7 linked regions of the Homo sapiens genome follow. The protein of the gene in region 6 purifies or fractionates together with the protein of the main gene of each other region. This does not show direct contact. Each region holds a gene or a part of one and is shown on either strand. Other genes may lie near its edges.

What was found.
Region 1: the proteins of C1D (region 6) and DIS3L purify together in Homo sapiens (affinity purification with mass spectrometry; one large-scale study listed by BioGRID and IntAct). This does not show direct contact.
Region 2: the proteins of C1D (region 6) and UTP4 purify together in Homo sapiens (affinity purification with mass spectrometry; one large-scale study listed by BioGRID and IntAct). This does not show direct contact.
Region 3: the proteins of C1D (region 6) and EXOSC7 purify together in Homo sapiens (affinity purification with mass spectrometry; 3 studies listed by BioGRID and IntAct, with this or other methods). This does not show direct contact.
Region 4: the proteins of C1D (region 6) and UTP15 purify together in Homo sapiens (affinity purification with mass spectrometry; 2 studies listed by BioGRID and IntAct, with this or other methods). This does not show direct contact.
Region 5: the proteins of C1D (region 6) and WDR75 purify together in Homo sapiens (affinity purification with mass spectrometry; 2 studies listed by BioGRID and IntAct, with this or other methods). This does not show direct contact.
Region 7: the proteins of C1D (region 6) and TENT4B purify together in Homo sapiens (co-immunoprecipitation; one large-scale study listed by IntAct). This does not show direct contact.

The regions. Positions count from the first base shown.
Region 1 is NC_000015.10:66,317,568-66,321,067, forward strand, and holds part of DIS3L (DIS3-like exonuclease 1), read left to right. Parts: intron 1-881; coding exon 882-1,051; intron 1,052-3,003; coding exon 3,004-3,165; intron 3,166-3,500. UniProt on the Homo sapiens protein: Catalytic component of the RNA exosome complex which has 3'->5' exoribonuclease activity and participates in a multitude of cellular RNA processing and degradation events.
Region 2 is NC_000016.10:69,138,659-69,142,936, forward strand, and holds part of UTP4 (U3 small nucleolar RNA-associated protein 4 homolog), read left to right. Parts: intron 1-1,166; coding exon 1,167-1,256; intron 1,257-3,484; exon of another isoform or gene 3,485-3,532; coding exon of another isoform or gene 3,533-3,641; intron 3,642-4,278. UniProt on the Homo sapiens protein: Ribosome biogenesis factor. Involved in nucleolar processing of pre-18S ribosomal RNA. Part of the small subunit (SSU) processome, first precursor of the small eukaryotic ribosomal subunit.
Region 3 is NC_000003.12:44,982,283-44,986,560, forward strand, and holds part of EXOSC7 (exosome complex component RRP42), read left to right. Parts: intron 1-4,278. UniProt on the Homo sapiens protein: Non-catalytic component of the RNA exosome complex which has 3'->5' exoribonuclease activity and participates in a multitude of cellular RNA processing and degradation events.
Region 4 is NC_000005.10:73,568,242-73,572,519, forward strand, and holds part of UTP15 (U3 small nucleolar RNA-associated protein 15 homolog), read left to right. Parts: coding exon 1-86; intron 87-178; coding exon 179-363; intron 364-1,255; coding exon 1,256-1,434; intron 1,435-2,344; coding exon 2,345-2,470; intron 2,471-4,247; coding exon 4,248-4,278. UniProt on the Homo sapiens protein: Ribosome biogenesis factor. Involved in nucleolar processing of pre-18S ribosomal RNA. Required for optimal pre-ribosomal RNA transcription by RNA polymerase I.
Region 5 is NC_000002.12:189,457,981-189,462,258, forward strand, and holds part of WDR75 (WD repeat-containing protein 75), read left to right. Parts: intron 1-772; coding exon 773-892; intron 893-1,355; coding exon 1,356-1,444; intron 1,445-4,278. UniProt on the Homo sapiens protein: Ribosome biogenesis factor. Part of the small subunit (SSU) processome, first precursor of the small eukaryotic ribosomal subunit.
Region 6 is NC_000002.12:68,052,695-68,056,972, forward strand, and holds part of C1D (nuclear nucleic acid-binding protein C1D), read right to left. Parts: intron 444-4,278; exon of another isoform or gene 367-443; intron 1-366. UniProt on the Homo sapiens protein: Plays a role in the recruitment of the RNA exosome complex to pre-rRNA to mediate the 3'-5' end processing of the 5.8S rRNA; this function may include MPHOSPH6.
Region 7 is NC_000016.10:50,155,841-50,160,118, forward strand, and holds part of TENT4B (terminal nucleotidyltransferase 4B), read left to right. Parts: intron 1-4,278. UniProt on the Homo sapiens protein: Terminal nucleotidyltransferase that catalyzes preferentially the transfer of ATP and GTP on RNA 3' poly(A) tail creating a heterogeneous 3' poly(A) tail leading to mRNAs stabilization by protecting mRNAs from active deadenylation.

The sequences.
Region 1 (3,500 bases), on a different chromosome or scaffold from region 6:
TCCCAATATACCAAAATGAGATTGATAAGATAATGGCAAAAGAGAGAAAATGGGACAAGTGGATTCTAAATGTTATCTCAGGAAGAGAGAGCATACTGACAATGTTATTTTAAAAGTTACCCATCTTTGCTGGGTATGATGGCACGTGCCTATAGACCCAGCTACCCAGGAGGATGGATTGAGCCCAGGAGTTTGAGACTGTAACATATTATGATAGTATCTGTGAATAGCCAGTGCACTCTAGCCTGGGCAGCATAGTGAGATCCTGTTTCTTAAAAAAAAAAAAAAAAGAAACGAACAAAAACAAAAAGTGTTTTTAAATTATCCATCTTTAAAATAAAATACCAAGAAGGCAAATCTTCAAACATACCTTTTCTTGTTGTTGTTATGTGTGTGTTTTGGTTTTTGTTTATGTGTTTGTTATTGAGACGGCATCTCACTCTGTTGCCCAGGCTGGAGTGTAGTGGTGCATCTCGGCTCACTGCAAGTTCCGCCTCCCAGGTTCAGGCGATTCTCCTGCCTTAGCCTCCTAAACAGCTGTGATCACAGGCGCACGCCACCATGCCCAGCTAATTTTTGTATTTTTAGTAGAGGTGGGGTTTCACCATGTTAGCCAGGCTGGTCTTGAACTCCTGGCCTCAAGTGATCCTCCTGCCCCAGCCTCCCAAAGTGCTGGGATTACAGGCATGAGCCACCATGCCTGGCCGTTATTGTTGTTAATAAAAGCTTCCTTTCAAAAACATTCTTGAGTTGGGTGGATGTGCTTGAAAAAAAATAGGACACTGTATTTCTTGTTCTTTTCCTTACTGCTTGAGGTGGTCAGAGTCCAGATAGATGGCACCTAACCAGTTAATGCCTTGTTTTGTTTTGTTTTGCCAAAGGTCGAGTGGTGGGCATACTTCAGAAGAACTGGCGGGATTATGTGGTGACATTTCCGTCCAAAGAAGAGGTCCAATCTCAGGGCAAAAATGCTCAGAAAATCCTGGTTACACCTTGGGATTACAGAATTCCCAAAATTCGAATTAGCACTCAGCAAGCAGAAACCCTCCAGGTAGTTGGCATTCTACCTCTACTATGGGATCTCTACGCTTTCTCCTTCTGTCTTTACCAGCTTTTTAGCAGTACCAGAAAGCATTGTTAATTCCTTTGCATATAAAGAAATAAATTATTGATGGCATCTGGCATTCCAAGATACTGGGATGTGTTTTTTGGGGTTTTTTTGTTGTTGTTCTTTTGTTTTTCCAAGACAGAGTCTCACTCTGTCACCCAGGCTGGAGTGTAGTGGCGTGATCTCAGCTCATTGCAACCTCCACCTCCCGGGTTCAAGCAGTTCCCCTGCCTCAGCCTCCCGAGTAGCTGGGATTACAGGCTCCCGCCACCACGCCCGGCTAATTTTTGTATTTTTAGTAGAGATGGGGTTTCACTGTGTTGGCCAGGCTGGTCTCAAACTCCTGACCTCATGATCCACCACCTCCACCTCCCAAAGTGTTGGAATTACAGGTGTGAGCTACCATGCCCAGCCGTGTTTTTATGTTTTTTAATTCTTTTTTTGTAGAGATGGGGTCTCACTTTGTTGCACACGCTGGTCTTGAACTCCTGACCTCAAGCAGTCCTCCTGCCTTGGCTCCCCAAAGTGCTGGAATCACAGGCATGAGCCACTGTGCCCAGCCCCAAGATTCTGTTTTTTAAAAATTCTAAATATATGAAAACCATCCATTAAGTAGTCTGTGGTTAATAAATTCAGGCCAGAGAGAAATTGTCCTAGAAAGAGCTGTGTAGGACAACCAGAGAGAACATACATTATCCAGCTGTCCAACATAGAAACTTTCTATAGATACACTTTGCCAACACTAACAAGCTTTCCTCCAGCAAGCAATATAGAAATACGATCACTCTGCCCTGTAGGGATGATGTAGTGGTACTTCACAGAATTGATTATCCATAAAGGAATATAGCACTGGAGAGAAGACATAAACAAGAAGGTTAGAAATTAACCTTTACTTGTGTCAAAAAGTATGGGCATTGCCCAATTTAATTCCCCCTGATATTTTACAGTTTGTAAATGAGACACTAAAGCAGGATGTCCCCAGCCAGTAACCTAGCCATTGTGCTTTTACATCTTGAAGCCTTATGCAGGCTCTCCAGGCCAGTTGCACCTAATACATTTTCCATTCCCATGGTTTGCTGGAATTTTGGGGTAGTGGGGATTCAGTTTACACGACACCTTCTTCTCCACCAAAGACCATCTTAAGAGGTCTTCAAAGAGACCAGGCGCAGTGGCTCATGCCTGTAATCCCAACACTTTGGGAGGCCGAGGCAGGTGGATCACTTGAGGCTAGGAGTTCAAGACCAGCCTGGCCAACATGGTGAAACCCCATTTCTACTAAAAAAAAAAAAAAAAAAAAAATTAGGTGGGCATGGTGGTACACGCTTGTAATCCTAGCTATGTGAGAGGCTGAGGCAGGAGGATCACTTGAACCCGGGAGGCATAGGCTGCAGTGAGCCAAGATAGCACCACTGCATTCCAGCCTGGTTGATAGAGCAAGACTCCATCTCGAAAAAAATAAAATAAAATAAAATAGACTTCAAAGAAATTAGGAACTACCTCCCACACACAAAACATTAAGATTGTTGTTTTAAAACTTAATTTGGAGCATGCATAATTGAGTTTTCCCCTAGTGTTGCAAGCGTTAACTAGAATATATTACAGTTAACTAGAATATATTACGGCTCTCTTCAGCAGACTAAAATTTCCAGCCCTCTTCATTGATGTAGAGAGGTAATGCCTCCCTTCAAAGCATTGGGTCAAGCATTTCATACCATCTGGCAATTTAGTAATAGGAAGAATGAAAAACAAAAAAAAAACCCTACCATACACCACTATTTGCACCTGGCCACTCTCCTTGGAACCCAGTATTGTTTGCCTCTTGTTTGTTTGATGCCTCTAATTGACCCACTTAACTCCTGGTGCTCAGCTGTGTTTTATTTTTTCCTTTTGTGCAGGACTTCAGGGTGGTCGTGCGCATCGATTCCTGGGAGTCAACATCTGTGTATCCAAATGGACATTTTGTGCGTGTTTTAGGAAGAATCGGAGATCTGGAAGGGGAAATTGCAACCATCCTGGTGGAAAACAGTATTTCAGTTATTCCTTTCTCAGAAGCTCAGGTCAGATTTTCCAGAAGGCTTTGATCTAGTGACATTTTCTTTTTGCTTTTGTTGTTGTTTCATCATTAAGAAAGAAAAGTCTTTGTGCTGTGGAACAACCCACTGTGTGAAGGCACAGATAATGGAAAAATCTCAATCCTCTTTATTCTATATTTGGACCAAACTGAAGTCAGCTTCAAGTGTAGAATTAGTTTTCTATAGCCTCATAGCTCTCAAATTTTTATATTTTCCAACTGGGCTTAAAAATGATATGTCAGTGTCTCATAGTCAGTATACATCCATCCCCAGCAACTACAAGGACACCTAGTTACAGACCCAACTGAGCTCCACACTCT
Region 2 (4,278 bases), on a different chromosome or scaffold from region 6:
TGGCAGACTGTTTCTGTAAAGGACCAGATAGTAAACATTTTAGGCTTTGCCAAACCTACATTGTCTGCCAACTCTGTCAGTGTAGTGCAAAAGCAGCCATAGACGATACTGAAACTAATGGGCAGGCTGTGCTCCAGTAAAAACTTTATTTACAAAAACAAGCAGTGGGCCTGATTTGGCCTGTGGGCCACAGTTTGGTGACCCATCTTCTAGAATAGCAAATGTCCTCTGTGTCCATTAGTAATACTTATCCTCTGCTAATCAGATTCTTGCTTCGTTTTTAATATATCTTGGGTGCTCTTTTTTTTTTTTTTTTTTTTTTTTTCCTGAGATGGAGTCTTGCTTTGTCGCCCAGGCTGAAGTGCTGTGGCGTGATTTTGGCTCAATGTAACCTCTGCCTCCTGGGTTCAAGCAATTCTCCTGCCTCAGCCTCCCTAGTAGCTGGGACTACAGGTGCGTGCCACCATGCCCGGCTAGTTTTTGTGTTTTTAGTAGAGACGGGGTTTCACCATGTTGGCCAGGCTGGTCTTGACCTCCTGACCTCGTGATCCACCCACCTCGGCCTCCTGAAGTGGTGGGATTACAGACATGAGCAACTGCACCCGGCCTGGGTGTTCTTTCTCAATTACAAAGGTAATACAATGCTTTTTAAAAATCTCATACATTTTGTCAAGTATGAAATAGAAAATAGGTGTCTCAGCTGGGCACGATGGCTTACACCTGTAATCCCAGTACTTTGGGAGGCTGAGGCGGGTGGATCACTTGAGGTCAGGAGTTCGAAACCAGCGTGGCCAACATGGTGAAACCCCATCTCCACTAAAAATACAAAAATTAGCCAGACATGGTGGCAGGTGCCTGTAATCTCAGCTACTAGGGAGGCTGAGGCAGGAGAATCACTTGAACCTGGGAGGCGGAGGTTGCAGTGAGCCGAGATCCCACTGCGGCACTCCAGCCTGGGCGACAGAGGAGACTCCGTCTCAAAAATAAATAAATAAATAAATAAATAAATAAATAAATAAATAAATAAAATGGTGCTTCAAGGAGTACTATAGATGAGAGAGCTAAGATTGTAGAACACTCTAGAGATAGTTGTGGGAAGAGAGCTCAGTTACTCTTCGTATATTTATGTGTATGTCACTTTCTTTTTTTGTTGTCCAACTCCCAAGGTCGCATCCTGAGTCTCAGCTGGCATCCCTCTGGTACCCACATTGCAGCTGGTTCCATAGACTACATTAGTGTGTTTGATGTCAAATCAGGTGATTGTTTTTTTCAGTTCATTTGGGGTGTGGGTTTTGTCAGATTCACATTTCTGAGTTTTCAAAAGCTTGAGCCTTTGTCATGGTTTCATGACCTTTATGGCCTAACATGTCATTAATCTTCTGAGATGTCCACAATTAATTTTACTCCTTTCTTGGATTACTACCACTGCTTTTAGGGGAATCTTGGATCTTCAGTAAGATATAGTATTTTTCATTCATCGTAATAAGAATTCACAATAAAATACTCTGAACTAGTACATTCGTGTACTATAAACAGTAGAATTACCTATTTATAGATCCCAGTCCTTGGTAAAAATGGGCTTCTGTCATTGAGGAACATAAGATTTTTGTAGCATAATTGGTGAAACATGAGATCAGAAAAGCAGAGAACCATGATATTTTCTGTTCTTGGCCTGGAAAATTGGCTTCATAGAATCCTTCATTGATAGGGTTGATCTCAACTTGTTAGGTGGACATGTCTGTATTTCCGTCTGAGATGCAGAGATAAAACAGGTTGGCTGGGCGCGGTGGCTCATGCCTGTAATCCCAGCACTTTGGGAGGCCGAGGTGGGTGGATCACCTGAGGTCGGGAGTTCAAGACCAGCCTGACCAACATGGAGAAACCCTGTCTCTACTAAAAATACAAAATTAGCCGGGGTGGTGGTGCATGCCTGTATTCCCATCAACTCAGGAAGCTGAGGCAGGAGAATCGCCCCATTGCACTCCAGCCTGACAACAAGAGTGAAACTGCGTCTCAAAAAAAAAAAATCCCTTAAGCTTATTACAAAAAAGAGGGAGTCCTTCTATATCTCTCTCACTCTCCTCGAGGCAACCACTTGTGACCCTTAGCTGATTCTTTTGGTATCTATCACTGCAGATCCTAGCATGCTTTTTATGCTACATTTTGATTTTTCAGCTTTAGACCATTTTTTACTGACTTCTGCAACTTGCCCCTCTTTTTCTACCGTCTGCCACAGGCATCCACACTTCCTCCCGATCCTCCCAGTATGGTTATATTATAACTTTGTTCAAATTAGTAATTGATGTTTTCATTATTATGACTATGTATATACTACTCACATAGTAAATTTTCTTTCTTTTCCGGTATACTTATTGTTTAATAGTGTCTCTGTCTCTCTGTCTTACTGATACATTCCCACATTTTTCCAGTTGCATAAATTAGGTTCAAGTCCATCTGATTTTCTTTCTCCACTTTTATCTTTGTGAATAAGTCCCTCCCGGTGCCTTCTGACCCACTCCCATCTGGCTTAGCCACTCTGGGCCTGCTGCACAGCTGTGAGATCTGAAACTCTGATTGATTTTTCCATTGTTCTCGGGATCTCCTTTGCTTCTCTATCGGATAGGATCTCCCATTTCTGTGTTATTCACTTTCTTGGTTTACCCTTTGGTGGATCCTGAGTAAGAGTGCATGAGAAAGAATTCTAGGTTGGAAATTCTTTTCCCTTAGAATTCTGAAGCCCTGGCTCCGCTGTCTTCCAGCTCCTCGTATTATTAGCAAGTAAGCTGCCATTCTGAGAGTTATCCCTTTGTGTAGGACCTGTTTTATTTTTTTTTCCCCCAGGAGCTTTTAGGATGTTTTATCCTTACTGTTATGAAATGTAATAATTAGGTTTCTTGGTATGTGGATCAATTAATTGTTCTGGACACCTGGTAGGTTCTTCTAATCCAATACCCACGTCCTTCAGTTCTGGGGGGAAATTCTTTTACTCTTATTTTTCATTTCTTTGTCTTTTTACTATGCTTTCTGGGAGAGTTTGTCTTTTTTATCTTTGAATCCTCTATTGAGTTTTTCATTTTTGACATTTCCAGAGTTCTTTTTTTTCGTGAATCTTCTTTTTTACAGCATTCTCTTTATGTTTCATTATACAGAAACTCTTCTCTTTCTTTTTTTATTTTATTTTATTTTATTATTATTATACTTTAAGTTTTAGGGTACATGTGCACAATGTGCAGGTTAGTTACATATGTATACATGTGCCATGCTGGTGTGCTGCACCCATTAACTCGTCATTTAGCGTTAGGTATATCTCCTAATGCTATCCCTCCCCCCTCCCCTCACCCCGAAACTCTTCTCTAAGGCTATTAATAATTGTCAAGTGTTTTTCACTCTGCCTGTTTCTTCCCTGTTATTCATTTATTTGTTTCTGTTAGTCCGTTTGGCCTCTGCCTTTCATGTTAAAGGCTTTCCTCATGTCTGGTGATCATCTCATCACTGCATCATGTGGCTTACTGAGCTTGGGTTTCACTGAAGAATGATCTGGCTGGACTGCTTATTTGGGGTAGCCCTGAAGCCAGAATCTTCAGATCTTTTCTTTTGTGTCAGTTATGTTCCTCAGAAATGGTTTTTCATTCTCCTGCCTGGTGAGTATTGGCCTGGCTATCAGCATTCTAAGGGGAAAAAAAAGAATGGTGTTCTCAACATTCAGTGAGAAATGTTCACTTAATCCTGGTTTTCATATACTGCTTCTGCCTGATAGCCCTCCTCAGACAACGTCTCCAGTATTCTGCTGACGTGCATTTTGGGAGCTTCCCACCTTCTTAGTCAGGGCATGGCTATCTGAGGGGTCTACCAGCTGTTAACGGATCCCTCTTTGAAGCCCCACTTACTCCTTTTCTAGAATATCTGGGGTCCCCAATTCCTGAGTCCAAGGATTCCATAGTATAAATCAGGTGGCTTCTTGGCTTTCCTCTCTGCCGACCTGGGACTTAGTTTCAGGGCTCTGCTAAGTCAGTGCCACTACTTGTCTGCTTTCCAGTTCCCCAAATTTTGTCACTGATCTCTCCCTTTCCTGTGGGATTTTGGAAAAGAGCAGAGTGTAATGTGTGTGTGCAGTTGACCAGCTTTAAGTGAATGTCCCAAATGTCTCTTTCCATTTCACCCCACCAAAGGGGTTTCTGTTCTCATTCTCTTCCCTCCCTTCCTCCCTCCCTTGCACCTTCTATCCCTTTCCTGTTAGGCTCTCCCAACACCCCTTCTCTTCAGGTAACCATTTTGGAG
Region 3 (4,278 bases), on a different chromosome or scaffold from region 6:
TGGATTATATGCCTTTGGTTCAGGCACCTACCCCTGGTCCTGGCTGTTGGGGATGGATGGTGACTGTTATGTGGCCTTTACAGGGCTTTAGGCACAATAAAGCTTTCCCAGGTTCAGCCTACTGAGTGCTATGGCTATGACCTGGACATTAAACTGGCCCTCATAGGTTCAGACCTGGCCATGGCAATTGACGAACCCTACCACAGGGCTCTTGGAACCCTGTGAAAGCCATTTTATTGTATGTTCTTGGCTGTTGAAGGGAGTTGTAGCCCAGCTGATGGCTTCCATTTCTTTTCTGTGGATCTTGCTTTCATCATAAGCATTGTTTAGGGGTATAGCATGGAAGAGGGAGATCAGGGCCTCAGCCTGGTTTTCAACTATGAGATTGAGCAGTCAGTATTCGGTTGCTCAGTCTGGCCATGACAGAATTGGAGCCAGCCCTCAGGACTCTTGATTTTTAGCTCTCTGCCCTTTCTGTTTACAGACCCATGGCACAGAAAGCCTTATGCCCAGACACTGCAGGATGCAGAGTTATGGAGCCATATCCTTTCAGAGGAATGCCTGGCTACTCAACAGGGTTGGAAAGTCAAACAAGGATCAACACCTACTTTTGCCTGCTGTGTGATGGGCCCGAGCCTGCAAAGCTGGACCAAATGTGGCCCCTTTCCTAAGGGCGGGGGGCAGTCACCTTCTAGTAGGGGAAGGAATTTAGTCTCACTTCTCCTTTAGGAATCTGGAGTATTAGACAAGTCAAAGCAAGTTAATGAGGGGTTAACATAACCTCAGAGGACCACTTTGAGTCTAAAGTCCTTCCAGATGTGTCAGATTGGTAGCGCCAACTTGTCAGTTTCTATTAAGAAGTAATAGGACTGGGCTTCCTGGGTGTGAGGGAAAGTAGGTCTGTGCTTAAATGTCCTTCCACTCTGTCACAAACAGGAGATTGAAACTTAGGTGCCTCCATTCTTATCTGTAACCTCTCTCAGGGTTGTTTTTGAGGATGCAGTGAGTTAATGCATGCCCCCAGAAGCAGGGGAAGGGAACTGCTTTGGGGGGACTCCTATGTGTTACACTGAAGGACTCCTTTAAATGCTTTATGACGTTTCTGTTCTCTTGTAACTCTGTAAGGTCGGGGTTATCCCTGCTTTCTAGATGAAGAAACAGGCTTAGAGCTATTTAGGTCAAGGTCACAAAACTGGCATGTGACAACAGAGATTTAAGTATAATTTGGAAGGTGGCTGTTTCCACCACACCACACCCTACTGGTAGGGTTGTTGTGATCACATGGGTAACAGCTGTGAAAGTCACCAAGAGCTTTCCTGGCATCCAGAAGCCCTTGATCTAGAGGCACATCAGTCTCCTCTGCTGAGAAGGAGGGGACACCACTCCATGCTGTTGACATCTCTTGAGTTTTAAAATGGAGCTTTTACTTCAGGGTAACTCCTATTTAAGTGTTCACACATGGATTAATTCCTTTGCTCGTGACTGCTGCAGATAAATAAAAACTGTGGTAGGGCACCAGGCCCTGAGCTAGGCCAGGCAGGTTTGGACAATTTCCTAAGCCTTTTATAAGGAAAACTGGGTTTAAAAAAAAAAGTTGCCCTGGGTACAGTGATTCATGGACTGGTTAGGTTGGTTTTTTTGGTTTGTTTTCCTCCTATCCTTTTTTTATATGGAAAAAAATTATGCATGCTTGGAAAGGAAAATTTGTAGCTTTTCATTTATCTTTTACTTATCACCTGAGCCTTTCTCCAGGAGGCAGAGAGTGAATTAAAGGCTGGAAAAGCAGTATCTGATGAGGCTCAGTTTTCTGACAGCCCACCAGCCCCTTCCTGGACCAAGTACATTTTCACTACAAAGAGGTGTGACTAATCTTTCAGAGCAAGTGATATTTTAGAAGCAGTAGTTGGACCAGATGTGGTGGCGCATGCCTGTAATCCCAGCACTTTGGGAGGCTAAGGCAGGAGGGTCACTTGAGGCCAGGAGTTTGAGACCAACTTGGGCAACATAGCAAGACCCCATCTCTACAAAAAGTAAAAAATAAAAATTAGCTGGGCATGTTGACATGTGCCTGTAGTCCTAGCTACTCAGGAGGCTGAGGTAGAAGGATTGCTTGAGCCTAGGAGTTTGAGGCTGCAGTGATCACCACTGCACTACAGCCTGGGTGACAGAGTGAGATCCTGTCTCAAAAAAAAAAAAAAAGGAAGAAGCAGCAGTAGTAAACCCTGTGACCTTGTGGCCAGCCAGTTCATCCTGTGAAGGAGGTCTCTGCTGAGTCCTTTTGTAAAGTGAAGACATCCTTTAGAATGCAGTGGACTGTGTAGCATAGCGGTTAAGAGCTCTGACTTGAGGCTTAAGTGCTACTTACTGGCTGTCTGAACTTGGGCCATTCATTTGACATCTTTTAACCTCAGTTTTCTCATTTGTAAAATGGAATGAATAACACTATCGTATAGGATTATTGAAAAGATTAAATGCATTAACTGCAGTATTCCTTGCACATTATCTGGTATATAGTAAATGCACAGTAAATAGCAGCTGCTATTATTTATTGCAAATAATTACAGCCATTTTAATTTATAGATCTGTAGAATTAGAGAATCACTTTGAGACTAATTTAATCTCCATCTTTTACAAATGAGGAAACTAATCCAGAGAGGGAAGGGGCTTGTCCTAAGTCAAGTGGCTAGTTAGTGCCAGGAGCTGGCCTGGAACCATGAGTCATGTTCCTAATGATTGTTCATACTTACACCATATTTACACCCCACAAAGAACTTCTTGTCAATAACCTTTCTGGGCTGGGTATTCACTTTCCTAGCTGGGGAGTGGGGCACATGGAGGTGGAGAGGGCTGGAGTGTTAGAGATTGAGCTAGAAAGCCTTCAGGTTCTATGGGTGAGGTTGGGAAGAGACACAGTTACATAGTTATGGGTCTTCCAGTGAAGAGGGATCACCTTCTGGAGTTCTATCCTAAAGGCTTACTCTCTTAGACTTGAAATTCTGTTGCTTTTTGAATCCATCTCCAGACTCAAGATAGGGATATTGTGTCTGGAATTGGTGGGTTCTTGGTCTCACTGATTTCAAGAATGAAGCTGCAGACCCTCGCGGTGAGTGTTACAGTTCTTAAAGGCGGCGTGTCCGGAGTTGTTCCTTCTGATGTTCAGATGTGCTCGGAGTTTCTTCCTTCTGGTGGGTTCGTGGTCTCGCTGGCTCAGGAGTGAAGCTGCAGACCTTCATGGTGAGTGTTACAGCTCTTAAGGCGGCACACCTGGAGTTGTTCATTCCTCCCGAGGTGGGTTCGTGGTCTCGCTGGCTTCAGGAGTGAAGCTGCAGACCTTCGCGGTGAGTGTTACAGCTCATAAAGGCAGTGTGGACCCAAAGAGTGAGCAGTAGCAAGATTTATTGCAAAGAGCGAAAGAACAAAGCTTCCACAGTGTGGAAGGGGACCCAAGCGGGTTGCCACTGCTGGCTCTGGCAGCTTGCTTTTATTCTCTTATCTGGCCCCACCCACATTCTGCTGATTGGTCCATTTTACAGAGAGCCGAGTGGTCTGTTAGACAGGGTGCTGATTGGTGCGTTTACAATCCCTGAGCTAGACACAAAGGTTCTCCACCTCCCCAGTAGATTAGCTAGATACAGAGTGTAGACACAAAGGTTCTCCAAGTCCCCACCAGAGTAGCTAGATACAGAGTGCTGATTGGTGTATTTACAATCTCTTAGCTAGACATAGAGGTTCTCCAAGTCCCCATCAGACTCAGGAGCCCGGCTGGCTTCAACCAGTGGATCCTGCACTGGGGCCGCAGGTGGAGCTGCCTGCCAGTCCCCTGCCATGCACCCGCATTCCTCAGCCCTTGGGTGGTCGATGGGACTGGGCGCCGTGGAGCAGGGGGCAGCGCTCCTTGGGGAGGTTGGGGCCACACAGGAGCACCCATGGGTGGGGGTGGGAGGGCGGGGAGGCTCCCGCATGGCAGGCTGCAGATCCGGAGCCCTGCCCCGTGGGAAGGCAGCTAAGGCCCAGCAAGAAATTGAGCACAGCAGCTGCTGGCCCAGGTGCTAAGCCCCTCACTGCCTGGGGCCAGCTGGCTGCTCCAGAGTATGGGGCCCGCCTAGCCCACACCCACCCGCTGAGCCCATGCCCACCCAGAACTCGCGCTGGCCCGCAAGCACTGCCCGCAGCCCTGGTTCCCACCCACGCCTCTCCCTCCACACCTCCCAGCAAGCTGAGGGAGCCGGCTCCCACCTTGGCCAGCCCAGAAAGGGGCTCCCGCAGTGCAGCGGCGGG
Region 4 (4,278 bases), on a different chromosome or scaffold from region 6:
TTCAGATTAAGGAATTTGGTGCAGTTTCAAAAGTAGACTTTTCTCCTCAGCCTCCATATAATTATGCTGTCACAGCTTCCTCAAGAGTAAGTATAATATTAAATTTCTTTATTTTTCTTTTGTATAGTTTACTACTGATCTTGAGCCATCTGGTGAAATACTGTTTTTCATCTTGTAGATTCACATTTATGGCCGATACTCCCAAGAACCTATAAAAACCTTTTCTCGATTTAAAGACACAGCATACTGTGCTACTTTTCGACAAGATGGTAGATTGCTTGTGGCTGGCAGTGAAGATGGTGGAGTTCAACTTTTTGATATAAGTGGGAGGGCTCCCCTCAGGCAGTTTGAAGGCCATACAAAGTAAGAGACAGTTGGTTTCTGTGTGTTCTGGTTTTATTTTGTTGTAAGCTCTTTTTTTCTCTGGACTTTGGTTAAAAAGATAGAGATCAGTTTTATGGAGATTATTTGCCTATAGGTACTATATTTCCTGATTGTTCTAAGAGTGCTTAACTTGGGTTCCGTGGTCCAGTTTCATGGGGCTTATGAATTCCCTAGAATTGTATGTGATATTTTAGGAAATACACGTTTATCTAGGGAGCTACTCTGTAGCTTTTGGTTAACTTTAGTGGGGTCTGTGGCCCAGCTGAGATTATGAATTACTGACCTGAAGACAACCTTACAGCTGGTAATGACAGCTCTATAGGCCTGTACTGTCTTAGAGGCTCTTATGTTGAAGTCAAGTAGGAAGGTGGATTTTCTTCTTGAATTTATAGTGTTTTGCCCCTTAATAAATTAAGTGGCCATCACAATTTTATATTATAACTTTGTTTTCAGGATTGCCAATGTCCGTGCTGAAATTTGTTAAAATTTAACAGAAATTTATGTAACATGATTCTATTTAGTGGTAAATCTCTTTAGAGTTTTTTAAAGAACTTTTTGAAATTTTAAAAATTAAAGTGCCTTTGCTTCCATATTCAGCAGCTAAGTGGAATTGTTTATATACTAGAAAATATAATTTTAAGGCTATCCTTTAATTTTTTTTAACTTTACAATATAGGAGTATTTACACTTCTTAATTGGTTTGGGGGCAAACACTTGTAAGTTTTCTCTTTCTTTCATGATTTCCCCCTATGAAGACTCCCTGAAACTCAGCTGCTTTTTTTTTAATCTGAGAAAAAGGAGCATTTTATGTTAGAAGGTATCAGAAAAATAATTTTCTTGCTTTTTAATATACTGACCTTCAATCTTTCAGAGCAGTTCATACAGTAGATTTTACAGCTGACAAATATCACGTGGTCTCTGGGGCTGATGATTATACAGTTAAATTATGGGATATTCCAAACTCCAAAGAAATTTTGACATTTAAAGAACACTCTGATTATGTGAGGTGTGGATGTGCTAGCAAACTTAATCCGGATCTCTTTATAACAGGTTGGTGAACTCTATTCCCTCCTGAAGCAAATAATCTCACGGGGATGTACTTTAATGTTGCTATGGGACTCTTTTGGGATGGAGGGGTTTAAATTTTTTTTATAAAGGAATATGTTTCTGATTAATTCTTCAGTTTTTAAATTAATTTTTATGTATGTATGTTTGCATTTATTTTCAGACAGGGTCTCACTCTGTTGCCCAGGCTGGAGTGCAGTGATGTGACCATAGCTCACTGCATCTGCTACCTCCTGGGCTCAAGTGATCCTCCCACATAAGCCTCCCAAGTAGCTGGGACTACAGGTGCCCACCACCACGTCCAGCTACTTTGTGTATTTTTTTGTAGAGACGGTTTTGCCATGTTGCCCAGGCTGGTCTCGAACTCCTGGGCTCAAGTGATCCACCTACCTCAATTTCCTCCCGGAGGACTGGGATTACAAGTGTGAGCCACCATGCCTGGCTTCCAATTGTTTTTTATTTTCTTATTCTTCTTTTGTTGATTGTTCATGTCTTCCAAATGTGTTTGGAAAAATCAGGCTGTCTTGAAAACATAATAGACTCTCAGAACTGTAATGTATAGTACCCTGCCTCAAGCAGCCAAGAAACAAAGAGTGCAGTTTAGCCTTTGTGGGTGCCTTTACAAAGATTTCCAGATGATTCAGTAGTGACAGTAGTCCAAAGAAAGAAATATTTTAAGATCAGAGCAAGTTAGATTCTGTATAGTATTATGTAGTGCTTCTTCAGACACGATCAGTAGTAGATGGTTTGGAGGTCCTGTGTCTTCATGAATATACATATATGTCTTTTTAAAACTCCATCTAAGCTTTTTTTCCTTTTAAAATTTATATCTGGATACACACAGTTTTTGTTGTTTTAAACAGTCAAACTAAAAATTCAAAAATTGACATTTTAGGATCATATGATCATACTGTGAAGATGTTTGATGCACGAACGAGTGAGAGTGTTCTCTCCGTTGAGCATGGGCAGCCAGTGGAGAGTGTCCTACTTTTCCCCTCTGGAGGTCTTCTGGTGTCAGCAGGTACTTCTTAAAAATAGCTTTCACCAATATTGTTGGTTTTGAATCACGTTTGTTTAAAATCAGTTGCTCTTTGTAATTTATCAGTGTGCATTTGAATTGCATATCTAAGTCTTTGTTCAAACAGTTGATAGGTAGGACTGGCAAGCAGTTATCATTTATTGTGTACCTAATGTGAGCCAGGCACTGTGCTGTTACATATGAACTCTAATGCCCTAGATGATGCTACAAGGTAGTTAGCTTTTTCCCTACTTTACAGCAATGAAATAAAAGTTTTAACTTATTTTTCAAGGCAAAGTGGTAAGTGGCAGATCTGAAATCACAGAACTCGAGAGCTCTGTGTATTTAGCCCTGTGCCATCTTATTTATTTAGCCCTGTGCCATCTTATTTAACCCCAGAAATTTAGCCCTGTGCCATCTTATTTAACCCCAGAAATTTAGCTCTTATGTATTTAGCCCTGTGCCATCTTATTTAACCCCAGAAATTTAGCTCATACTCCTTTTACTCCTACCTAAGAGATCTGCAGCAGCTTTTGAAAATCAGTTATTTGAGATCTAGTAGGCTTGTCTCTTTTTCTGTGACTCTCTTGATTGAAATGCCACTACCCAGCAAATAGCTGCTAGTACTAGAGAAAGGAGATAATGTGGCCTCAAAAGGGGCCTTGGTACATTTTTCAACAAGTTGGGACTGAGATGTTTTTCTCATTTTGCACATATTGCATTTTCATAATTACAGTGGAAGAAGTAAATTGGCTTTTTTCATTTGTAAATAAAGTAAAAATGTGTTCATATTAGAAGAATGTATAGGTAGTATGTATACTTGACAACATATATATTGCTGTGTGTACCTCCTTTTTTTTTTTTTCTTAATTCTAAAATCTGGCTAGAAATTACTCTGTTTTATATTCTTTTCCCCAGTACCTATTTGATTTAAAAATAAGTTGAGGCGGGATGTGGTTGCTCACGCCTGTAATCCTAGCACTTTGGGAGGCTGAGGCAGGCGGATAGCTTGAGTCCAGGAGTTTGAGACCAGCCTGGGCAACATAGCAAGACTCTAAGACTCCATCTTTAATTAAAAAAAGAAAAAAGTTGATAATGTCAGATGTGTCTACTTTTCTTGCTGTTATTCTGACAAATGGAAAAAATATCATGTTGAACAGGGAGAATAGAAAGCTGTGTGCTGATCTCCACTGTGTGTCACTAGCTAATTGTGACCTCGGGCAATCCCTTAAGGTCTCTAGACCTTGAAAATGAGAGGGTTGGACTAGATCAGTGATTTCAACTGTGATCCCTCTTGTGAGGTGCCACATAGGAGTGGAGAGGTGGGAACTGTGAGTTGGGTTCCAACTCCTGTTCCCCAGTCAAGATTTCAGTCTCCCCTTCCATCCCTTTTTCTGTCTTTCCATATTAGACTTTTTTGCTTGATATTTTGCTGCAGATCTACATTATTCACTTCCACTGCTATATAGAATTTCTTTTAAAAAATGATTTTATTATAATTTTCTTAAAATGGACTCTTTCAGTTATACATTTATTTTGCTGGAATTTATGTACACTTCACAAATATTATTTAATGGTCATAACAGTTCTGTGAGGTAGGAACTGTTATTACCAATGACCCAGGAAGTGGTGCATCCAGGATTTTACCAGGCAGCCTGGCCTGGACTCCCTCACTCAGCCTCCATGCTTTGTGGAGTGTCCAGAGAAGAATGCTTTTCAGATCTTTAATATGTTGAATCTGTGGGCAGAATATCCAACTAACGATGATTTCTTTTTATAGGAGGTCGTTATGTTAAAGTCTGGGACATGTT
Region 5 (4,278 bases), about 120 Mb from region 6:
TGGTGTGTTCTCGGCTCACTGTAACCTCCGCCTCCCGGGTTCAAGTGATTGTCCCGTCTCAGCCTCCTGAGTAGCTGGGACTATAGGCGTCTGCCACCAGGCTGGCAAATTTTTGTATTTTTAGTAGAGACGGGGTTTCACCATATTGGTCAGGCTGGTCTTGAATTCCTGACCTCAGGTGATCCACCCGCCTCAGCCTCCGAAAGTGCTGGGATTACAGGCGTGAGCCACTGTGCCCGGCCAATTGCTTTCTTTTTAGTATAATATTGATCCTGACTTCTTCAGAGCCTGAAGATTGACAAGTATTCAGCCAAAGAATAGGAAATAGGCTAGATATTATAACAAGTAGATTGATCCCTTTGGATTTGTCCTTTCAGATGCATTAGCCATTTGTCTCAGATCTAATGTCTCAGGTTTGATTATGCCTCATGCTAAGATGTAGGTTCAATGAGAAATTTGAACAAGCTTTGACCAGGCCAAAAAAAAATCACTAAAATCTTTACTTAAATGTCAGTGGCTTCCATAGATAAATTATTATGGTAGAATATTAGTTACATGAAGTTCATGTTGTATATTGATATATGTTTACAAAATAGAATGCTTGATTCTTGATCAAAATTTTCTTTTTAAAAAAAATCCTGCAGTTATATTTATTGAATTCTGAGCTCTACAATTTTGGTTGCTATTGCTGGGAACTCTCTTTTACTTAACTACATCACCACTTATCAAGAGACTTTAATAATTAAGGGAATTTGTTTTTTTTTTCTCCTAGGTTTACTTTATCATCATCAAGAAATAAGAAGCATGCTAAAAACAATTTTACATGTGTAGCATGTCACCCAACGGAAGACTGCATCGCATCTGGTCACATGGATGGCAAAATTCGTCTTTGGTCAGTTTGCTCATGAAGAGCATGGCGATCATTTATGTACTATTTTACGTTAGTCCTGTAGAACAGGGCTATCTCTGGGTCCCAAGAAACAGCCTCCCTTTCCTTTTTTGTGTGCTTTTCATTTCATACTTACTGTTTTAGAATTTCTAGCCTTGGACTTATAAAGTGAGTGAAACATTTTTTGTTGCCTGTAATCATTTTATTGAAGAAAACTTTTTGTTTGCCTTTCTCCAAAAAGGAAAGACTGACAATAGTGAATATCTAGGAGGGTACCACAGATGGCATATTATTTATAGAAGTCAGTCACTCTGGTTAGAAATAGAAAATGTGCACATTAAGACCAGAAGCCTTTATATTATGATTTAGTATGTTTGGTATATATTATGTTTATTGTATTTGGCATGCCATTGTTTTCCTAACTTAAACCTATGGTCAAAATAAGAGTTTTATCTTTCTCCAATAGGAGGAATTTTTATGATGATAAGAAATATACGTACACATGTTTACATTGGCACCATGATATGGTTATGGATTTGGCTTTTTCAGTGACAGGTAAGTGCGGGTTTAATTATTAAAATGAACTTTTGAAGATATGATTCAAGTGTTTTAATTCACTGTATTTTTAGTTTGGAAGATTTAAAACTGCATGAGCCAAATGAATTCCAAACACTTGTGTGTTACCCCTGTATTTTGGGCTTTGCTCAGCACAATATGCTTTAGGTTTTGAAGCCCTTCAAAGTTCTAAAGTGTACATTTGTGATAAAAATCTCTGTTGTTTACATAAATAACCTATTTAAATTATATGACTTTTTGAAGGTATATCTGTCTACATAACTAAGTGTGTGTGGTCCATAACTGTAGCTTATCAGGTGCAAGTAACTATTCTAACACTACATCCATTATCTGATTTAATCATTGGCCGTAGGAAATGAGTGGCATTATACTCATTTTACAGATAAAGGAAGTAGGATTTGGAGTTGATAATTAACTTGCCTAACATGACATGGTGGGTAGGTGGGTTTGGACCTGGTTCTGATTTTAGAGCTCTTGTTTTTAACTGTTACATGGCCTTATTTGACATTAGCTATTTTAAATTAATCTCCATCATTGTTTCATTTAAGCTGCATGACTTCTGTCACAGCTTTGTGTAGTGTAGCTATAGCGAGTAAAAATACCTTTAAAGTAAAGTGGTCTTCAACAGAAATACAGGGAAGTACATCTTGTCTTTGTTTACTTTTAGCATCCTCACACCCATGTGGTGAGAGTTATGTCAGTTTATTTGACTGGTTCTTTAAGAAAGTTACTACATACTAGAGAAGATTGTGTGCCTAAAAAATGAGAAGCCAGGAAAAGTGATTTTTCTTTCTGCAGGTCTTCCTGGAGACTGACAGGACAAGTCTTAGATGGTACCATATGCTGTGGTATCCTTAGAGTCTTACTTGGGTGTAATGCCCGGAAGCCCCAGGAAATAGGAGACACCTTCAACCCGATTATGGTTTGGGGAGTAATGACTAGTGTATGGAGACAATGTAGGCTGCTCATTTGTATTCTCTACCCTCCTTCCCACTCCACACCCTCAAAATACTAGTGAGTGCTTGGTATCCATATGTATGTGTCTGTATATGTTCCAGGCAGGGGTTTTTTTTTTTTTAGACAAGGTCTCACTTTGTTACCCAAGCTGGAGTGCAGTGGCACCATCTTGGCTCACTGCAACCTCGACTTCCTGGGCTCAAATGGTCCTCCCACCTCAGCCCCCTAAGTAGCTGGGACTACAGGCACGCACCACCACGCCCAGCTAATTATTTGTATTTTTTGTAGAGATGGGGTTTCACCGTGTTGCCAGGCTGGTCTCAAACTCCTGACCTCAGGCGATCCCCCCAGCCTCCACCTCCCAAAGTGCTGGGATTACAGGCGTGAGCTACCGTGCCCGGCCATTATTTGAATTCTTGATATTATATTTCAAGTAGCATGAATATTTTTAAATGAGAAATAATGGTTACAGTACATAGTTGTCAGTGAAATGTCCTTACTGACTGTGTGGGTATGAGTTATTAGAAAAAGAAAAAATAGCTGCGTAAATATAAAAGAAATACAGATTTTAGTTGTTTTTGAGAACTTCATAACTTGAGGCATATATGAACTATATGCACAATGTATCATATATGTGTATATATCAGATTAAACTTCTTAATTTTGTTTGTGTACATCACAACTACATACCTTTAGTCTTCTGTTTAGCTAGATTTTATCAGCTTGCAGCTTTAGAAAATTTGATAAAAACCCCATTATAAACCAGTGATCTTTAAAACCAGTTGTTTTAGATTCATGAAAGAATGAAAAATGGTTATTTGATGGAATACTTTTGAGAAAACAGTCTGAAACAGTGTCCTATTTATCCATTTAGTCATTAAGGTAGTCTTTTGCAGGCTTTTGTTAGTTTTCAAACCATTAGATTTAATTGGCCACATTTGACTGGTGGCTACCGTGTTGACAATACAGCTGTTGCTATATTTGAGGAGAATTGATGTTTTTATAGTATTGAGTATTTTAATTTGTAATCATAATAAATACTTTTCCACTTTTTAGGTCTTTATATCCATGAGTTAGGATTTTTTTTCTGTGGTTCTCATATATATTTTTCACTAGACATTTGATGGTCTTTTGATAGTATGTTTTACTCTATATTCTAATTGACTTGCTAGTATTTAAAAATAAAATTGATTGTTATATATTTCTCTTATAATCAGCTAAATTTACTTATTCCATAAGTTTATCTATAAACTATTTTGGCTATGCCTTGGTGTAGTCATGCTGTCTGTGAACATGGAAGTGATTATTTCCTTCTTTCCAATCCTTAAGCCTTTCTGGTTTCATTTCAGTGCACTAGACATCCAGTTAACGTTGAATCAAAATGGTAATAATATTCTTAATCACAAAGGGAAAGTTTTCAATAGTTTAACTTTTAGTGTGGTGTTTGCTATAGATGTTATCCAGGTACTCTTGATGAGATTCAAAGGGTCCCATCCATTCCTGAGTTTCTGAGAGGTATTATCATGAATACGTATAGAATTCTGTCATTTGCTTTTTCTGCATCTATTCAAATAATCATGGTGTTTTCCTTTTGTTCTGTAAGTGGGGTTACATTAATTTATTTTTCAGCTGTTAAGGTAATCTCATTCTTGCAGTAAACTGCGATGACATGATACCCTTTAATATATCATTGGTATAGTATTTTGCTTAAGAATTTTCATCTGTCGTGAAATCGGCTTTTTTTTATATATATATAATATTTTTGGTATAGTATTTAAATGTTTAGAAAAATTTATCAGTGAAGCTATCTTGGCCTAAAGGATATTTGTTTGTCCAGCTTTTCTAGTTGTCAACAG
Region 6 (4,278 bases):
AAAAAAATAAAGACAAGGGGGACTAAAAAATAAAGGCTCTTCTATTATGAGAAATTCCTCCTAATTCAATTGATTTCTACTAACACTTTATTATAGGCAGCTGCTGAGTATTTATTCCTTCCACAGAAAAAGCGCAGAAATTTCCCTCTGTCCCCTTAGCTACTCTGACCCCAGGATCAAGCAGTGACTCTACGATATCAGCAGCAAACTCTTGAATAGCACTGATTATGTGCCAGGCACTACTCTAAGCATTCCACATGCACTTGTTCATCTAAACCTCACAGATGAATAAACTGAGCCAAAAGAAGTTAAAGAACATGCCTAAAGTTGTACATGTTAAAATTTCCAAAGAAGAAAAGAACTCACCCAGCTCTGCTCCTCACCCTCCTCCGGGGTTCTATAGGTACTCCTTGCCCTTCCACATACTCCTTCTAAAACACTGGCTGCAGAGGTAGAGACAGACGGAGAGGGCATGAGAAAACTTGCTTCTCTTCACCACTCAGTAAGGTGTGGCTGAGACTGAGTACCTGGGTTGCGGGGATGCTGCCCAGTAACCCTAACAGATGTTACTGCCACTCAGTCCTTCCTCTCACTGGTTATACAGAAGCCAAAGTACCGATAGGAGAAAACAAGAGTGCATAGCATCACATACAGAACTGAAGTCATCAGCTACCTCTTTCCTTTAATTCTCCACTTCAGGGTGGCCAATCCAGGCAGAAACCTGGGAGGCACCCCAAATCCAATCAGTCCTGTCAATATGGCTCCCTTAATCTCCTTACACCACAAGCTTTCCTCTATTCTCACTGACTAGATTATTTCAACAGCCTTTGAGTAGTGTCCCTATTATCAATTTTTCTCCACTCCCAGTTTTAGAATATTACAAAATATGCTTTAAACAGTCTGGTCATGGTACTCCTCTGTTTAAAATTCTGCAACAGTTCCCTCCCACATGGAAGACAGTTCCAAACCCCTCAGCGTAGATGCAAGGCCCATTATGATGTGGCCCTTGCTTGTCTGCCTAACCTCATCTTTCATGGCTCCCCTCTTCCAATCCTAGAGCTGTGGCCATGATGGCAGTTTTCCAAATGTGCCGTGCTCTCTCACTCTCAACTTTCACCTGTGTGATTCTCTAAGCCTGAAATGCCCTTCCAACTCCACTTTTTTCAAACGCTGCTTATCTTTGGAGGTAAAAAATAGGTTCCAGTTCGGCCAGTGAAGACTTCTCTGCATGCTCTCCTTCTATGCTCTCTGTCTGGACAAATACAACAACTATAAGCTGTCATGTCACTTAAAACACTATCTCTTAATGTATTTTTATTTACTTGACTTCTCCTTTGACTACATGCTCCTTGAGGGGCTGTGTCATATTCATGTTGTATCCCCAGTGGCTGACACACAAGGTGACTATAACTCTCAATTTGCCCAAGACAGTTCCACCTTACGCCTGTTGTTTCAGCTTGCCATCAACTCAGCTCCTTTCTTTCTCAGAAGTCCCAGTTTGAACAAAAAATTATATGGCTACCCTAAACAATGCAAGTTCTCTGACCCTTACTACCGCTTCCCATCCCATTTAGCTGGAGAACAGAAGCATCAGAGGAGTTACCCTTTGCACCAGTCAGGTTTCAACTAGAGAAGCAGAACCAGTAGGAGATATATATTAAGAGAGTTATGGCAAGAAACTGGTTTACATAGGGCAGGCTATGAAGGGAGGAACTCATGCTGGAACTCTTGGCTACTAGCTGAAACTGCTGTCTACAAGTGGAATTTCTTCTTTTTTGGAAGGAAAACCTCAGCTCTGCTTCTAAAGCCTTTCAACTGATTGAATCAGGCCCACCCAGATGATCTAGAATAATCTCCCTTACTTAATTGATTATGGATTTTAATCATAGCTTCAAAATACTTTCACAGCAACACCTACATTCATGTTTGACTAAATATCTGGGGGCTACAGCCAAACCAAGTTGAAACATTAAAAAGACAATCACAGCCAGGCACCATGGCTCACATCTGTAATTCCAACACTTTGGGAGACTGACAGGAGGATCACTTGAGCCCAGGAGTTCAAGATCAACCTGGGAAACACAGACAGACCCATCTCTAAAAAAAAAAAAAATATTTTTAATTAGCTGGGCGTGATGGCATACACCAGTAGTCCTAGCTACTCAGGAGGCTGAGGTGAGAGAATCACTTGAGTCTAGGAGTTCGAGGCTGCAGTAAGTTATGATTACACTACTGCACTCCAGCCTGGGCAACAGAGCAAGGCCCACATCCTTTCTTTTTTTTTTAAAAAAAAAAAAAAGACTATTGCACTAAGATGCATTCCTAGCATCAAAAATATTGTTGCTCTGACAATACTTTCCCACAACAAGCTTATTTTGATTATCAGGTTCCCAAGTAACAGAACTAGACTTCAAATTCTAGCTAACAAATGTAGAAGAAATGACAACTTAAAAAAGAATCACGACTTTGCAACGCCTAATGAAATTGTAGGTTTAGTCAATGACCACCAACAGATCACTAAAAGTAGGTGAAATGCACATATTATGAACCTCCTGATGTGAGGCAATATAACATACACAGCACCATCTGCAAAGCATTCCCAACTCCCAAAAAAGCTGAATCTGAACAATTAAGCCTACAGAGCTAACTTCCATTTTATAGGAAATCCAAAGGATAGAGGAACAAATTAACACCACAAGAAAGCAAACAAATATGGAGTGAGAAATACAGTACTCTACAGGATAACTGACCAGGTTTCCATAACAAGTCAACAGCATGAAGCAAAAAAAAAAAAGTGGGGGAAGAAAGACAGAGGAAGAAGAGATTTAAGAGATGTAACAACCAAATGAAATACACAGACCTTGTTTGGATCTTGATTCAAATAAACCAAGTGGAAAAAGATAGTTCTGTGAGAAAGAAATCTGAACATGGACAAAGTACTAGATGACACCAACAAATTATTGATAATTCTGTCATCTATGATAATAGCAATACAGTTATATAAGAAAATTTCCCTGTCTTTTGAGGATGCACACTGAAGTATAGAGGGGTAAAATTATGTAACATTTTGAATTTGCTTAAAAAAAAAGTAGCCTCCACAAATTATTACAACTTTGAGAGCAAAGATAAGAACCTATGTACATTATTTCTATAGTGAAATTAGATGGCTAACTCACAAACTAGCTTTTAGAATACAACTCCGTTCATATATAGGAGAATAACTAAAGAGAAGGTGTCGTCTAGAATATTTAAGCAGCTCCATTACATCTCATTTCAATTCCAAATATAACTGGAGTGAGGGAGAGGAAGGTTACTGGGTGCTCACTACATCTGTGATAGTTGCTGAACATATAGTCTCAAATGAAGTTTGTATTACTAACATTTCCAACAAAAGGCTCACATTCTAGAGTGTCTATTTATTTCAAGAGTATCACAAAAATCCTTTTGAGACAGAGTCTTGCTGTCTCGCCCAAGCTGGAGTGCAGTGGCTCAATCTCAGCTCAACGCAACCTCTGCCTCCCAAGTTCAAGCAATTCTCCTGCCTTTTACAGGTGCGTGCCACCATGCCCAGCTAATTTTTGTATTTTTTTAGGAGAGACGGGGTTTCACCATGTTGGCCAGGCTGTCTCGAAATCCTGACCTTGTGATCTGCCCACCTCAGCCTCCCAAAGTGCTGAGATTACAGGTGTGAGCCATCGAGCCCAGCAAATTCCCTTCTTTAAAAAAAAAATCCTAATTTCTTGTATTTTTACCTGGCCCTTAAAAATGCAGGCAAAATAAACAAATAAACAAACACCCAAGACTAATGTCAAATAAAAAACTAAAAAAAGACATATGCAACACAAAGATTTTTTTAAAGCCTCTATGAATCAATTTAACAATAACAAAAAAAGTACACACAACCCAAAAGAAAAATAAACAAGAAAATCAACAGTTCACAAATAATCCAGATGACCAATAAGCATAAAGAAAGCTACTCAGCCTTACTGATAATTAAGGAAACATAAATCGCTAAAATATGATGCCATTTTCATCTGTCAAATAGGGAAAAATTAAAAAGATTAATAGTACTAAAATGGACAAAGGTGAGCTGAGAACAGCCTCCCATTCACTATTAGTCAGGGTATAAATTAGTTTAGCATTTTTGTGAGGTAATCTGCACTATGCTTCAAAATCACATATGTACACATGCTTTGACCTAGCAATTTTACTTCTCAAAGTATATTTTAGCGCAAGATAATGTTTAAGGACTTCCACTGCAATGATCTTTAAAACAGT
Region 7 (4,278 bases), on a different chromosome or scaffold from region 6:
CTCCAGTTAGGTAATCACTGTCAACGAAAACCTTGAAGTTCCTTAATTGCATTTTACTGAAGCCTCTTTGCATGTGTCTAGCAAAAGATATAAGTCCAAGATGCTTATTTTTTTTTTGATAAATTAGAAATTGTCCTCTCCTCTACTTGCTATTTAATGCAGAAGATACTCTAAAAGGTTCATATTTATACTTAGAAGCAAGATGTTCTTGTTCCTGATTCAAATATATTGCCCTCAAAGGGATTAGGAGAGGAATTTTCATTTCCCGGAGGGATTACTGTTTAAAAACTGGTTGTAAACCTCTTTAAAAACTGCTTATCACTTCACCAGATTTTCCATTCTTTTGCCTCCTCCCTTAGAGGATGTCAGCAGTTAATTTTTTTTTTAAATTAAAAAAAGTTCAATTCTGAGACCTCCTAGTTTCAAAAAATACATTAAACAATTCCCAAGAGTGTTAAGAGTGTCTGGGTGCTTAGAAATTCTTGCTTTGATTCATGTATTCTGATTTTTTTTTTTTTTTTGAGACGGAGTTTCGCTCTTGTTGCCCAGGCTGGAGTGCAGTGGCTCGATCTCAGCTCACCGCAACCTCTGCCTCCCAGGTTCAAGCGATTCTGCTGCCTCAGCCTCCCGAGTAGCTGGGATTACAGGCGCTTGCCACCACGCCTGGCTAATTTTTTATTTTTAGTAGAGACGGGGTTTCTTCATGTTGGTCAGGCTGGTCTCGAACTCCTGACCTCAGGTGATCTGCCCGTCTTGGCCTCCCAAAGGACTGGGATTACAGGCATGAGCCACCGTGCCCGGCCTCATTATCCTGATTTCTTTTTTTTCTTTTGAGACTGGGTCTCACTCTGCTGCCTAGGCTGGAGTGGAGTGACGTGATCATAGCTCACTGTATCCTCTAACTCTTGGGCTCAAGTGATCCTCCTGCCTTAGCTTCCTGGAGTAGCTGGGACTACAGGCACATGTCACCACACCTGCCTAATTTTTTTATTTTTACTTTTTGTAGAGATGGGGCCTCCATTTGTTGCCTAGGCTGGTCTTCAACCGGCCTCAAGCAGTCCTCCCACCTTGGCCTCACAGAGTGCTGGGATTATAGGCATGAGCCACCATTCTCGCCAGTATCCTTATTTCTTAACTTTAGAAAGTTTTTCTATTTTTAATATAGGTATTTAAAAAAATCTGAATTCAGAGTGCACCTCGATGTTATGCTGTTCTGAGATTAAATATACTAAAACTGTTACCATTGTTTTCTGAATTCTTAAGATGTGACTGATAGTTAGCTAATAGGTTAACACATTGTGGTGGTTCTTGGCCTCTGAACTGATAGTCCAGATGGGGAGAGGAGACCAGAAAGCATGTGAAAATGGACTAGAACCATGGGACAGCTATATAGTCTCTCGCAGCTGTCTTTTGTGTTCTCTGCTTCCACCAAATTGGTTGATTTATTTAGAATGCTGACCTCTTGCATTGCCTAAGTCCTTGATGTTTTTGGTTTCTCCTCTGAACTCTCAAAGGTACTCACTTCATGCTCTTGGTATAGCCCACTTATGTTTAACTTTCCTTTTATTATGTGTTCCCTCTTACACATGACATGGACATTTCTTTAATATGTAGAGTAAGATATTGGATTTCATCCTAAAGTCTTCAAAATAAAACTCTTGAGCTCATCATCTCAGACTTCTTCATGTACCCACAGACCAGGGATTTTGTTTGCTTTTTAAAACATTTTTTTATTTTGTGTTTTATTATTTTTAAATTTTAATTTAATTTTATGGAGACAGGGTCTCGCTCTGTTGCCCAGGCTGGAGTGCAGTGGTGTGATCTCGGCTCACTGCAGCCTTTGCCTGGGCTCAAGCCATCCACATGCCTTGGCCTCCCAGTGTGCTGGGATTACAGGTGTGAGCCACTGTGCCTGGCCTAAATTTATTTTTTTAATTTTTTTTGAGACAGGGTCTTGCTCTGTCGCTCAGGCTGGAGTGCAGTGTCATAATCATGGGTCACAGCAGCCTTGGCCTCCCAGGCTGAAGTGAACTTCCCACCTCAGCCTCCTGAGTAGTTGGGACTACAGGCGAGTGCCACCATGCCTGGCTCATTTTGGTTTTTTTTGTAAAGATGGGGTCTTGTCATGTTGCCCATGAAGGTCTCCAACTCCTGGTCCAAGTGATCCTCCCGCCTCCGCCTAGCAAAATGTTGGGATTACAGGTGTGAGCCACCATGCCTGGCCTTATTTATTTATTTAATTATGAATGAATGAATGAATTAATGAGAGGGAGTCTTGCTCTCTTGCCCAGGCTGGAGTGTGGTGGCACAATCTTGGCCCACTGCAACCTCCGTCTCCCAGGTTCGAGCAATTCTCCTGCCTCAGCCTCCCGAGTAACTGGGATTACAGGCGCCCGCCACCATGCCCAGGTAATTTTTGTATTTTTAGTAGAGATGGGGTCTCACCATGTTGGCCAGACTGGTTTCGAACTTCTGACCTCAAGTGATCTGCCCACCTTGGCTTCCCAAAGTGTCAGGATTACAGGCATGAGCCACCATGCCTGGCCTGGCCTTTTATGTTTTAAGTTGCTTCCACTGATTCTCTTGGGCTTTGCTCCCCTCCAGAACTGGCCATGGTTTAGGATGCTGTCCACCTGCTGCTGCTTGTCCATGAAAACGAGCCATAAACCCTTTTCTTTTGAAAGACTTAATTGTTTATCACTATGGAGAAAGAGGGGATGGCAAGAAGTAGCAAATACAGGGAATTTGCAGAACTTGGTCTTGAGCCCTGGGTCCAGAAACTTCTTCTGGAAGGTGCTTGGTGTTTGTCCAAGCTCATGATAGGTTTCTGTTGGCTGTACTGCCAGATCTGTAGATGCTTTTTTAAGGCTTGGATGACTTGTTCAAAACAATGTTTTGGAGTACAAATTTGGCTGTGGGGACATCAAGACCTTGTTGGGAAACTTGGGTTTAAGGTACAATTTCTTAAACTAGGATGGTGGGAATGGGGATGTGAAGGGAGAATGAATGTGAGAGGTATTACAGGGTAAGGATGGAGATGATTCAGATTCCTTAAGTGGATTTAATAATCACACTGTAGCTTTGAACTTGAGTGACTGGGGAAATATTTGTGGTGTTTTTGGAAATAAGGGCCAGAAGGACTATTGGTTTGGGTAAGAAGATAGTAGGGGGATGTATAGGTGGACCTGCTAGTGGGGAGCTGAGATTTGGAGGGCTGAGATGTAGTGCTCTTCACTGCCGTAGGGCAGTATCCTCTTGTATGTGCCATCCTCTAGTGCCCATTGTTCATCATGTCATAGTAAGCCCAAGATGTTCATGCCTTTTTTCAGCACTGCATTAGGGCTTATATCTGCTTCTCTTTCTCTCTCTCTCTCGCTCTCGCTCCCTCCCTCTCTCTCTCTTTCTGTTTTTTTTTTTTTTTTAGACGGAGTTTCACTTGTGTTGCCCAGGTTGGAGTGCAGTGGCGCGATCTTGGCTCATTGCAACCTCTGACTCCCGGGTTCAAGCAATTCTCCTGCCTCAGCCTCCCAAGTAGCTGGGATTACAGGCATGTGCCACCATGCCTAATTTTGTATCTTTAGTAGAGATGGGGTTTCTCCATGTTGGTCAGGCTGGTGTCAAACTCCCAACATCAGGTGATCTACCTGCCTCGGCCGCCCAAAGTGCTGGGATTACAGGCATGAGCCACCGCGCCCGGCCTCTCTCTGCTTATTTCTACACAGTGTTACCAATGAGATTGGTGTTACTGCTGGGCTCCAAAGCAATCAGACAGATTAAAGTAGATTGAATATGAAAGAATTTAGAGGCCTTTTTCCAAGTGATTTGTGCTCTATTTAATTTCTGTGCATTTGCAGATATAGCCCACAGTAATTCTTAGTGAACTAGAACCTTCAGGTTATTGAATTTTACTGATTTGGGTACTGACATGCGCTTTTAAGAAGACATTAGGTTTTCTATAGTGTAGATTGTACACTAACAATATAATTCATATTTAAGAATGTCTCAAAATTTAGTATACTGTGTTCAACTAACTTAACTTTCTTTGTTTTTTTTGTTTTGTTTTGTTTTTGTTTTTTGAGACGGAGTCTTGCTATGCCACCCAGGCTGGAGTGCAGTGGCGTGATCTTGGCTTACTGCAACTTCAACACTCCTGGGTTCAAGTGATTTTCCTGCCTCAGCCTCCTGAGTAGCTGGGATTACAGGCACCCGCCACCACACCGGCTAATTTTTGTATTTTTAGTAGAGACGGGGTTTCGCCGTGTTGGCCAGGCTGGTCTT